Linked DNA regions of Homo sapiens. The protein of the gene in region 3 purifies or fractionates together with the protein of the main gene of each other region. This does not show direct contact. Each region holds a gene or a part of one and is shown on either strand. Other genes may lie near its edges.

Region 1 (3,649 bases), on a different chromosome or scaffold from region 3:
ACAGGGTTTTGCCATGTTGGCCGGGATGGTCTCGAACCCCTGACCTCAAGTGATCCACCCACCTCGGCCTCCCACAGTGCTGGGAGCCACCGCGTCCAGCCTTAAACTTTGTTTGTTTGTTTGTTTGTTTTTTGAGACAGGGTCTTACTCTGTCACCCAGTCTGGAGTGGAGAGGTGTTATCACAGCTCACTGTAGCCTTGACCTCCTGGGTTCAAGTGATCCTCCAGCCTCAGCCTCCCGAGTAGCTGGGACTATAGTCATGCACTATGATGCCCAGCTAATTATTTTTTGTAGAGGTCGGGTCTCGCTGTGTCGCCCAGGCTGGTCTTGAACTCCTGACCTCAAGTGAGCCTCCCACCTCAGTCTCCCAGGCTTCTTTTACTTAACACATATTTTTGAGATTCATTCATGATGAGAACAGTGACAGTTTATTATCACTGCTTTATACAGTTATTGTATGAATGTGTTTGGCCATTTATTATTAACCATTCTACTCTTTTTTTTTTTTTTTTTTGAGACAATGCCTGGCTCTGTTGCCCAGGCTGGAGTGCAGTGGTACGATTTCGGCTCACTGCAAACTGCTTCCCAGGCTCAAGCCATCCTCCTACCTCAGCTCCCCTGGTAGCTGGGACCACAGGCGCATGCCACCACACCTGGCTAATTATTTTTGTATTTTTTGTAGAGACGGGGTTTTGCCATGTTGCCCAGGCTGGTCTTGAACTCCTGAGCTCAACCAGTCTGCCCGTCTGGGCCTCCCAAAGTGCTGAGATTACCAGTGTGAGTGACCACATCTGGCCACCATTCTACTTTTTGTTTTTTGAGACTGAGTCTTGCTCTATCACCCAGGCTGGAGTGCAGTGGCATGATCTTGGCTCACTGCAACCTCTGCCTCCCAGGTTCAAGTGATTCTTCTGCCTCAGCCTCCTGAGTAACTGGGATTATAGGCACTGGCCACCATGCCTGGCTAATTTTTGTGTTTTTAGTAGAGACGGGGGATTCACCATGTTGGCCGGGCTGGTCTCGAACTCCTGACCTCAAGTGATCCACCTACCTTGGCCTCCCAAAGTGGTGGGATTATAGGCGTGAGCCCCTGCGGGTGGCCCATCTTACTTTTTTTTTTTTTTTTGAAATGGAGTCTCGCTCTGTCACCGGCTGGAGTGCAGTGGCGCAATCTCAGCTCACTGCAACCTCCGTCTCCCGGGTTCAGGTGATTCTTCTGCCTCAGCCTCCCAAGTAGCTGGGACTACAGGCATGTGCCACCATGCCCGGCTAATTTTTGTATTTTTAGTAGAGATGGGGTTTCTTCATGTTGGCCAGGATGGTCTCGATGTCTTGACCTCATGATCCACCTGCCTTGGCCTCCCAAAGTGCTGGGATTACAAGCATGAGCCACCGTGCCTGGCCTGAGCCATTCTACTTTTAATGGACATTAGATTGTTTCACCTTTAGGGTCATTACAAATAGTACTGCTGTGAAAATACCTGTACGTGTCTTTTTGTGAACATAATATGTGCATTTCTGGTGAGTTCATCTACGTTTTTTATTTTTTATGGTATTGACATGTTTGGAGAGTCTGGACTACTTGTTTTGTGAAATGTTCCACCATCTGGATTTGTCTGATTTGTTCCCTTACATTTAGATCCGGGTTAAACATTCTTTTGTGAGAATATTATGTAAGTGACGTTGTGTCTATCTGTGTATCATATCTGGAGGAACGAGTCCCATTGTCGAAGATGAAGTTTGATTGTTTGGTTAAGGTGGTGTCTATCACATTTCTCCATCATAAAGTTAACTTGCTAAATTAGTTGCTTTCTTTGCAACTTTGCTAGTATTGTTTTAAATTTTTGAGACAGGGTCTCACTCTGTCACCCTGGCTGGAGTGCAGTGGCACAGTCATGGCTCGCTGCAGTCGTGACCTCCTGGGCTCAAGTGATCCTCCTGCCTTGGCCTCCCAAAGTGCTAGGATTACAGGTGTGAACATGGCCAAGTTTTTCTTTTTTTCTTTCTTGAGATGGAGTCTTGCTCTGTCTCCAGGGTGGAGTGCAGTGGTATGATCTCGGCTTACTGCAATCTCCACTTCCCAGGTTCAAGCGATTCTCCCCCCTCAGCCTCCGGAGTAGCTGGGACTGCAGGTGTGCACCACCATGCCTGGCTAACTTTTTATATTTCAGTAGAGACGGGGTTTCACTATGTTGGCCAGGATGGTCTCAATCTCCTGACCTCATGATCCACCCGCCTCGGCCCCCCAAAGTGCTGGGATTATAGGCGTGAGCCACTGCGCCTGGCCTGGCCAAGTTTTTTTTTAGTATTTTAGTTTAATATTGTATTGACTGACAAAGTCTTATGGCCTAAACTTTACTGTGGAATTCTAATAGGTGTGTTGTGATCAGTTTGAGTTTTGACAAATTGTATATACGTGTGTAACCACTACCACCCTAAACCTGTGTAACCACCACTGCCACAAGCAAGATCAACAGTTTCAGTATCCCTAAACGTTCCCTTACGCCCCTTCCCATTGAATCCTTGCCTGTGGTCCTAGGAAATCTGAACTGTTTTCTATTACTATAGAGTATATTTGTCCCTCCTAGAATTTCATATGAATGAATTATGTATTCTTTTATGTCTTTTTTGGCTCAGAATAATGTTTGTGAAATTTATTTGTGTTATGGTATGTATCAGTAATTATCAGTAATGAATTACCTTTTTTTTTTTTTTTTTGAGATGGTATTTCGCTCTTGTTGCCCAGGTTGAAGTGAAGTGGCTCAGTCTTGGCTCACTGCAACCCCTGCCTCCTGGGTTCAAGAGATTCCCCTGCCCCAGCCTTCCAGTAGCTGGGATTACAGGCGCCCACCACCATGGCCGGCTAATTGGCTAATTTTTTTGAATTTTTAGTAGAGACAAGGTTTCACCATGTTGGCCAGAGTGGTCTTGAACCCCTGACCTCAAATGATTTGCCCACCTCGGCCTCCCAAAGTGCTGGGATTACATGTGTGAGTCACTGCGTCCAGCCAATTTTTTTTTGTTTAGTAGAGATGGGGTTTCACTGTGTTGGTCAGGCTGGTCTCCAACTCCTGACCTCATGTGATCCAACTGCCTTGGCCTCCCAATGTGTTGGGATTACAGGCGTGAGCCACTGCGCCTGACCATGAATTACTTTTTACCGCTGAGTAGTATTCCATCGTATGGATGGCTATATCTCAATTTGTTGATCTGTTCACCAGTTGATGGACATTTGTAGTAGTTTTTGATTCCTGCGTAACAGTATTACCACAAATTTAGCCGCTTGGCACAGCACACATTGATTATCTCATGGTTTCTGTGGGTCAGGAGTCAGGAAACCACTGGGCTGAGTCTCACCAGGCTACTATTGAGAAATCTGTCAGGACTGTGGTCGCTGACTAGGGAGGGGTCTGCTTCCTAGCTTGTGTGGTTGTTGGTGGCATTCAGTTCCTTATGGACCATGAGACTGGAGACTTTAGTGTGTTACTGTCAGCCAGCGGCCGCCCTCAGTTTCTTGCCAAATGAGTCTTCCCACTTGCCTCCTCAAAGCCAGCAGAAGAGAGAGTCTCTTAGTAAAGTGGACATTACCACGACGTATCTCACCCACATTAATGCAGTCACGTACATGCTGTCACCTTTGCCATATTG
Region 2 (3,649 bases), on a different chromosome or scaffold from region 3:
TGAGTCTAGTCTTGTTTTTTTTTTTTTAATCTAGTTATCCAGTCTATGTCTTTTAATGAGATATTTAATTCACTTACATTCAAGGTTATTATTAATAGGTGAGGACTTATCTTGTCATTTTATTGTTTTCTGGCTGTTTTCTATATCCTTTGTTCCTTACTTCCTCTTACTGTTTATTTTTGTGGTTGGGTAGTGTTCTGAAGTGATAAGGCTTGATTTCTTTCTCTTTTTCCTTTGTATATTGGCTCTACCAGTGAGTTTTATAGTGTCACATGTTTTTATAATGGCTGTTATGATCTTTTCACTTCCAGATGTAATACTCCCTTGAGCACTTCTTGTAAGACTGGTCTAGTGGTGATGGATTACCTTCGTTTTTGCTTGTCTGTGAAAGATTTTATTTCTCTTTCATTTCTGGAGGATATCTTTGCTGCATGTAATATTCTTGGTTGGCAGATTTTTTTTTTCTTTTAGTACTTTGAACATAAAATCCTATTCTCTCTTGGTTGGTAAGATTTCTGCTGAGAAATCTGCTATTAGTCTAATGGGAACTCCCTCATAGGTGATTTGATGCTTTTCTCTTGCTGGTTTCTTTTTGTCATTGTTGTTTGTTTGTTTTTGAGATGGAGTCTTGCTCTGTTGCCCAGGCTGGAGTGCAGTAGCGTGGTCTCAGCTCACTGCAACCTCCGCCTCCCAGGTTCAAGTGATTCTCCTGCCTCTGCCTCCTGAGTAGCTGGGATTACAGGCACCTGCCACCATGCCCAGCTAATTTTTTTGTATTTTTAGTAGAGACAGAGTTTCACCATGTTGGCCAGGCTGGTCTTGAACTCCTGACATCGTGATCTGCCAGCCTCGGCCTCCCAAAGTACTGGGATAACAGGCATGAGCCACCACATCCAGTCCTTCTCTTGCTGTTTTTAGAATTCTTTGTCTTTGACTTTTGATAATTTGACTCTAATGTGCCTAAGAGGGGTCCTGTTTGAATGGAATCTATTTGGGATTCTTTTAGCTTCCTGGATCTGGAAGCTCCCAAGACTTGGGAAGTTTTCAGCTACTATTTCATTCAATGTTTTCTGTACATTTGCCCTTCTTTTCTCTTTCTGGAACACCTACAGTGTGAATATTTGTTCACTTAATAGTGTCCCATGAATTCTGTAGGCTTTCTTCATTCCATTTTACTTTTTCTTCCCCCCATCTTTCTGTGTTATTTCACAAGATCTGTCTTCAAGTTCAAAAATTCAGCCACGCATGGTGGCTCACACCTGTAATCCTGGCACTTTGGGAGGCCAAGGCGGGCAGATCACTTGAGATTAGGAGTTCGATACCAACCTGGCTAACATGGTGAAACCCCATCTCTACCAAAAAATACAAAAATTAGCTGGATGTGATGGCATGCCCCTGTAGTCCCAGCTACTCAGGAGGACTGAGGAGGGAGAATCACTTGAGCCCAGGAGGTGGAGGTTGCAGTGAGCTGAGATAATGCCACTGCACTCCAGCCTGGGTGACAGAGTAAGAACCTGTCTCCAAAAAAATAAATAAATAAAATTCTGCTTGGTCTAGTCTTTTGGTAAAGCTCTAGCTTGTACTTATTTACTTATTCATTGAATTCTTCCACTCCAGGATACCTGTTTTGTTCTTTTTTATGGTATTTATCTTCTTGTTGAATTTCTTGTTCAAGTCATGAATTGTTTTCCTGATTTCATCAAATTGTCTAGCTCTATTATCTTGTATCTCACTGTAAGATTACTATTTTGAATTCTTTTTCTGTCATTTTGTATATTTCTCTATCATTGGGGTCTATTACACAGGAATTATTGTATTCCTTTGGAGGTGTCATGTTTCCTTGCTTTTTCATGTTCGATGTATCCCTATGTTGATGTCTATGCATCTGGTGGAATAATTGCCTCTTCCAATTTTATGTGGTAGGTTTTGCAGGGAAAGAAATATTTGTATGAATGGATCTTGGGGTGTTGGTTCAGTGGGATGCATTGGCTTTGGTTCCAGGTGGGCATAGTAGTGTAGTTTTTGTGTAGTTTCTTTAACTGTAATCCATGCCAGTGACATTTGTGAGTGTCTCAGTGGCCTCAGCTGAGAGGCTTTGTGGTGGTGGTGGCATGACTTTGCCAGGGATGTGTTCACCGGGCTATTTGTCAGGTCAGCGATGCATGCGTTCACATGGTGGGTTGTCCAACTTGGGGTCTCACTTGCTGGGGTTGGGGTTGGTGCCCTTACTCTGGCTGAGGGCACAGTTGCTTGGTTGCTTGGCCAGTCTGGGAGTATGCCTGCCAGAGGTGGCCTGTTGGGCTGTTTCTCAGGTTTGGGACATGGGCACACTGCTGCTCAGCTCTCCTGTGGGGAATGCCTGCTGGGGACAGCCTACAGGGCTATTTCTCAGGCATGAGAGGTGGGCATAAGTCTGCTTGATGGCCCCGGGGGCATGTCTGCCAGGAGTGGCCTGAGGAGTTGCTTCTCAGACCCGGGATATGAACACAAGGCTGCTCGGCTGGCCTAGGGGAGTTGCCGCTAGGGGTGACCCATGGGCTGTTTTTCAGGCCTGAGATATGGACACATGGCTACTTGGCTGGCCTGGGGGTATGTCTGCCAGGGGCAGCCTGCAGGGTTGTTTCTCAGGCCCTGATTGAGGTGTGGGGCCTTTGGGCAGGCCGGGGGCATGTCTGTAGGGGGCTGCACTGCCCGACTGTTTCATAGATCCGGGATGCAGGAGCGTAGTCACTCTGCTAGCCTGTCAGTTGCTCAGGGCCTTCTGCTTGCAGGAGGGTATGCAGCAGTTTGGTTGGCTCAAGAGTGGGTTTGCCCTGGGTGGGACTGTTTCTGTGGCTGAAAGTGCAGAGGGTGGTTTCCCTTCATTGCAGGACCAGAGTCACAGCCATTCCCGAGCCCTGGGTTGTGGAGTTCAGCCACCTGTGTAGCTTTGGTGGCATGAAAATGGAGTCCCAGTGCTGGAAAGGTGCAGTGGCTACTGGCCCCAAGAGGAAGGCACACTCCAGAGGGAGCTGTGGTCTAAAGATGGCGCCATGCTGTAGTAACTTGGCTCATGGAGTGGGTGGGGAGTGGGGAATGCTCCTAATCTGGGGCAGTGCAACTGTACGAATTCCCAGCAGCTCTCCAAACTGGGCTCAGAACTTGCAAGGACTGGGGGATCCTCCTGTAATAAGGACTGTAGGTGTTTGCAGTGGCAGTGGGGGCAGGTGGGAATCTCCCGCTTACCTTTTCCTCACAGGGAGAAGGCCTTCATATGTCCAGGCCTCCTCAGTCCTGGTGGAAGAGATGGGGCCACAGAGGCTGGGGGCCTTCATGCTGCCCTCCTAGACTTTCAGTCACCACAGGGGCCTCTCCACTTCCCCACTGCAGTTCAGCACTTTCCCACACTGAAGTCAAATCTTAGCTGTTTATTCATTGCCTTAGTCCTTTCCTAAGAAAGGTGGGTGGGGGGGGGGGGGAGCGGGTGAGCACCAGCTGACTCTAATCAGTCATCTTGCTGATGTCCCACCCATCATTTATTCTATGATTTTTCATGAATCTGTTGAGAGCTCTAAAGATGAGTCTAATGTTCATCTCTTTGTTGAATTGGTCAGAAGGTCGTGTCCTGGACAAGATGATCTTCTCAGCTTGGACAGAATGCAGACAGGTG
Region 3 (3,749 bases):
TATGTTGGTGGTGGGGACAGATAGGAGGCAAGAAAATCAGTTAGGAAATTATTGAAACAATTCAGCCCCAGATAATCGAAGCTTATCAAGAGCAGCAGTGTGAGAATGCAGAGAAGTGGACAGTTGCCAGAAACATCTCAGAGGTAAACATGGCAGGCCTGGAAGATGAAAACCTTCAGTGCCTGGCAACTGAGGGGTTGGAAATACTCCAATCTCAGAAAAGAGAATACTGGGATTGGAGGTGGGGGCCAAGCTGGGAGAAAGATTTCAATGTCTTGCAGAATATAGAGAGGGGTTGATGAGAATAACAGCCGAAGAGCCCAGGGGAATTCCCAGGTTAAAAAAAAAAAGCCCCACAGAGATCAGAAGGGCAAATCCTCAATCTAGAGCCACAGAAGTGAAGATTTGGCTCTAGACTCTGAAGTCAGCTCTCCTACGGAAAAAAGATGGACCCAGGCCTTTTTAACTCAGGCAGCCCCCATGGAGGAGAGAGATGGTCCTCCTCAGTTTCTGCACGTTCCAAATGAAAGGGTCCTTCTGTGTAGAATGAGAGATCTGGAGAGTCCTGGGTAAAATCTCAGACATAATTCTTTCTTCTGAGAAACCAGCTTTTTGCTTACTGCCTTGAGGAAAACCTTGTCTATCTTTCTTTCTTCCTCTTGTTTTCCCCCTCAGTAGAATCCTGTGAAAAGAAGTCTTTGGGTATCACAATGTGTAAAACAGTTAAGAATGTAGCCACTGTCTTGTCACAGTGGGGTCTGCGGACCTGGCCTCTCTCTTCCCGTCCTCTACAACCAAAGATTTCCTCTGCGCAGTTGTAAAAATGTGGAATGTCCTAATGCACATAAATAGGTCTGAGATTTTAAAATAAATGAAACAAATATAATATGGAAAGTCTAAGTGGATTCCCAAGACCATTTCCAGGTCTCCCCTCTATGTTTCTCCTTGAGGGTGTCTTAAACACAACATCTCACACATATTTTTAAGCGGAAGACAGTGGGCTGGGTGCGAACATCTTGTTTGTGGCCTCCTGTAAGCATTCTTGGAAAAAGAAACGTACTTGTCTTTCTGATTATAAAATAAGCAAAAGCTCAACGTAAAGAATTTGGCAACTCCAGAGAGTATAAAATAAGAAAACTAATTGGTAACTCCGACGCCACTCCAGAAATAAAAATGAGCATTCGCGGAGAATCCTTCCAGTCTCCTTACCGAGGCCGGCTAGGGACCTGAATCTGAAGCTCCTCGCCCCGGGGCCAGCTCCTGCGGCAGCCGCTGGCTCGAGGCCCGGGAAGGGGCGCTGAGGGGAAGGCGCCCCCCAGGGAAGGTCTCTGAGGAGACGGCCGGAGGCGGGGCCGCCCCAGGGGACTCGGCGGCGACGCAAGGAGAAAGATCCGAGGAGCTGGAGGAGCCGTGAGGCGCGTGGAGTCTGCAAGGTCCCGGAGCCCTCCCGGCCCTCGCGGGAGAGCAGGGTCGAGGCGCGCCACGCGGGCGGCGCCAGGGAGGGGCGGGCAGGCGTGGCTCAGCCAGTGCCCCGGCCAGAGGCGCCCGGCGCCCCGCGCACACCTCAGAGGCCTGCGCCGCCGTCCCGCCGCCTCCACGCCAGGCTCCCGGCGCGGCGATGGGCGCGGGCCCCTGTCTCTGCCCCGGCCCGCCCCTTCCCGCCCCTTCCAGCCCCGCGAACGCGCGAGACGCCGGGGGACCGTGGGCGTCCTGCACATAGCAGCGGGCTTGGCGCTTCTCGGCGGTCCGACGCTGATGAGGTGAGCACAGCGACCTTAAGGATCCACAAAACTTCAAACACTTAATTATTAAGTGAAAGTGGAAAGGGGGAGGGGCTTTCTCTCCCTTTCCAGAATCTGGGCAGTTTGTTTGGAACCGGTAAAGAAACTCTCATAGGAACTTGAGGTGAGCAGGGGTCACGCATCAGGGATGCGAGTGGCAATTTCAGTGGAAGAGACGGGAGAGTACTGTAATTTGGTGTGAAGATGGGGCCGTGGGTTTTCTGCTGAATAAGCGACCGGCTGTGCTGAAAATGAGAGATCCCGAAACAGTTTCCCACCGCCTGTAGACTTTCCAGAGTCTCCTCACGCCGAATCTGCTTTGCAGGGCATGTTCACCCCCAGGGTGTAGAGTGGCGGGCACGATGGGCTCCCCCATGGAGATTGCAAAGTCCTGAAAAGGGACAATTGTATTGCACTGCGTCTGTTGAACTGCCTTGCTTCTGGGCATGAGGGAGTCACCTGGAAGCTGCAACATCCTTGTACCCTGGCAAGCAGCCCTTTCCAAGTTAGCTCTGTCAGAAACTAGAGGCCTCTAGGTAGAACTCAAGGTATCCATGTACTCGTGAAGAATACAAACCTTGAGGTTTTTAAAATCGAATTTTGTTAAGATTTCAGGATAGAAATCTGGGAAGAGAAGTCATGGCATGGCATAACTTACCCCTTTGTTAGTTTTCTAGGTACATGCATGCTTGAATTAGAGGTAAATGATGCCCTAGCCTATCATAAAATGTCTTTCCTGGTGTAGTTCTTTAAACCAGAATATGGAGGATAACATTACATTTTTGCATCCTAGATAAAAGGGAAAGATTTTCAGATGGGGCTTACACAGCGGGAGAAATTGTTGATATAGTTGTATTAGGCAGCAAGGCCTGCAAAGAAAAACTTCTTTTTCTCCACCAGTGGCTGAATTCTGCACAGAATGTCTCCTCGCAGTCTGGGTAGCAGCCCGGCTTGCAAAAACAGTGCTTCTTTCATTGCTGCAGGTGGGGCAAATGCGCTTGCGGATAAATGGCTGGGGAAGCGTTTGCTTACAGGTTAAGGCAATTTGAGTCTGGAGAATAAAGTGCTTTAGCAGGCTGTGCTTGAGTTAGGTGTCCCTTGTGAGGAATAGAGGTGGCTTTCTGGTCCCCATTTTGCCAGCCTAATTCCCCTTCAGGGACACTACTGTCTCTGGAATGTTCCCTCTGTTTCCCCTTCTCTTCCACCCCCAGCTTTTAGCTTCTCCCCATTCCCCAGTAAAGTCTAGAATTGAGCCTGGTCAGAGTCAAAGTTCTGATAGCCTAGGGATATAGAACTTCAAGCCTGGTGAAGGCAGAAATGAGACCTAGGAGAGACCCAAGATGGGTGAGATGAAACAACTTTCAGCCTAGAAGGCTCTCAAAAGAGTGGAAAAATAATGATTGAGGGAAACAGATTCTCTGGAAAGGAGAATAGGTGCTTAAGTGTTTGTTTTCAGCTGAGGGTTTTAATATTTCCATTTTTGTTGTTTAACCATAAGGGAATTTCCATTATAGGGTAGGAGGAGGATGAGGCCTTCTCTGAAAACTGCATCCTTCTCCTTGAATTTGCATTTTATTCCATTCTTATGTAGGTTTCAGAGATTAATTGGGGGAAGGGGGAGAGAGGAAAGAAGCCAGAGGCTCTGACATGCTGCAGAAACAGTGCAACGTGGACTGACTTGGGCTGCAAAGGTGGATTTGGGGGTTGAAAGAAATGTTCTACATTTAGTTGAAAAAAAAAAATCAGAGCCTTTATTTTGCAAAGGTCTTGAGAATCAGAACATTCATGTTTAGTTGCTGATGAATTTTGCCTGATAAAGGATGCAAATCACTATCTCACCTTTTTTTCTCCAGTACTTTATTATGAAAAATTTTAGACATACAGAGATGTTTTCTACCTCTCATTTTATAAACTTATTATCTTAAAACAAACTTGTTAATAAAAATCAGTGTTTAGAATCCAGACATA

What was found.
Region 1: the proteins of GPR156 (region 3) and PEX14 purify together in Homo sapiens (co-immunoprecipitation; 3 studies listed by BioGRID and IntAct, with this or other methods). This does not show direct contact.
Region 2: the proteins of GPR156 (region 3) and STX8 purify together in Homo sapiens (co-immunoprecipitation; 3 studies listed by BioGRID and IntAct, with this or other methods). This does not show direct contact.

What each region holds. Positions count from the first base shown.
Region 1 is NC_000001.11:10,481,327-10,484,975, forward strand, and holds part of PEX14 (peroxisomal membrane protein PEX14), read left to right. Parts: intron 1-3,166; exon of another isoform or gene 3,167-3,649. UniProt on the Homo sapiens protein: Component of the PEX13-PEX14 docking complex, a translocon channel that specifically mediates the import of peroxisomal cargo proteins bound to PEX5 receptor.
Region 2 is NC_000017.11:9,506,217-9,509,865, reverse strand, and holds part of STX8 (syntaxin-8), read left to right. Parts: intron 1-3,649. UniProt on the Homo sapiens protein: Vesicle trafficking protein that functions in the early secretory pathway, possibly by mediating retrograde transport from cis-Golgi membranes to the ER.
Region 3 is NC_000003.12:120,283,040-120,286,788, reverse strand, and holds the start of GPR156 (probable G-protein coupled receptor 156), read left to right. Parts: upstream 1-1,566; 5' UTR 1,567-1,760; exon of another isoform or gene 1,761-1,905; intron 1,906-3,749. UniProt on the Homo sapiens protein: Orphan G-protein coupled receptor involved in the regulation of hair cell orientation in mechanosensory organs of the inner ear.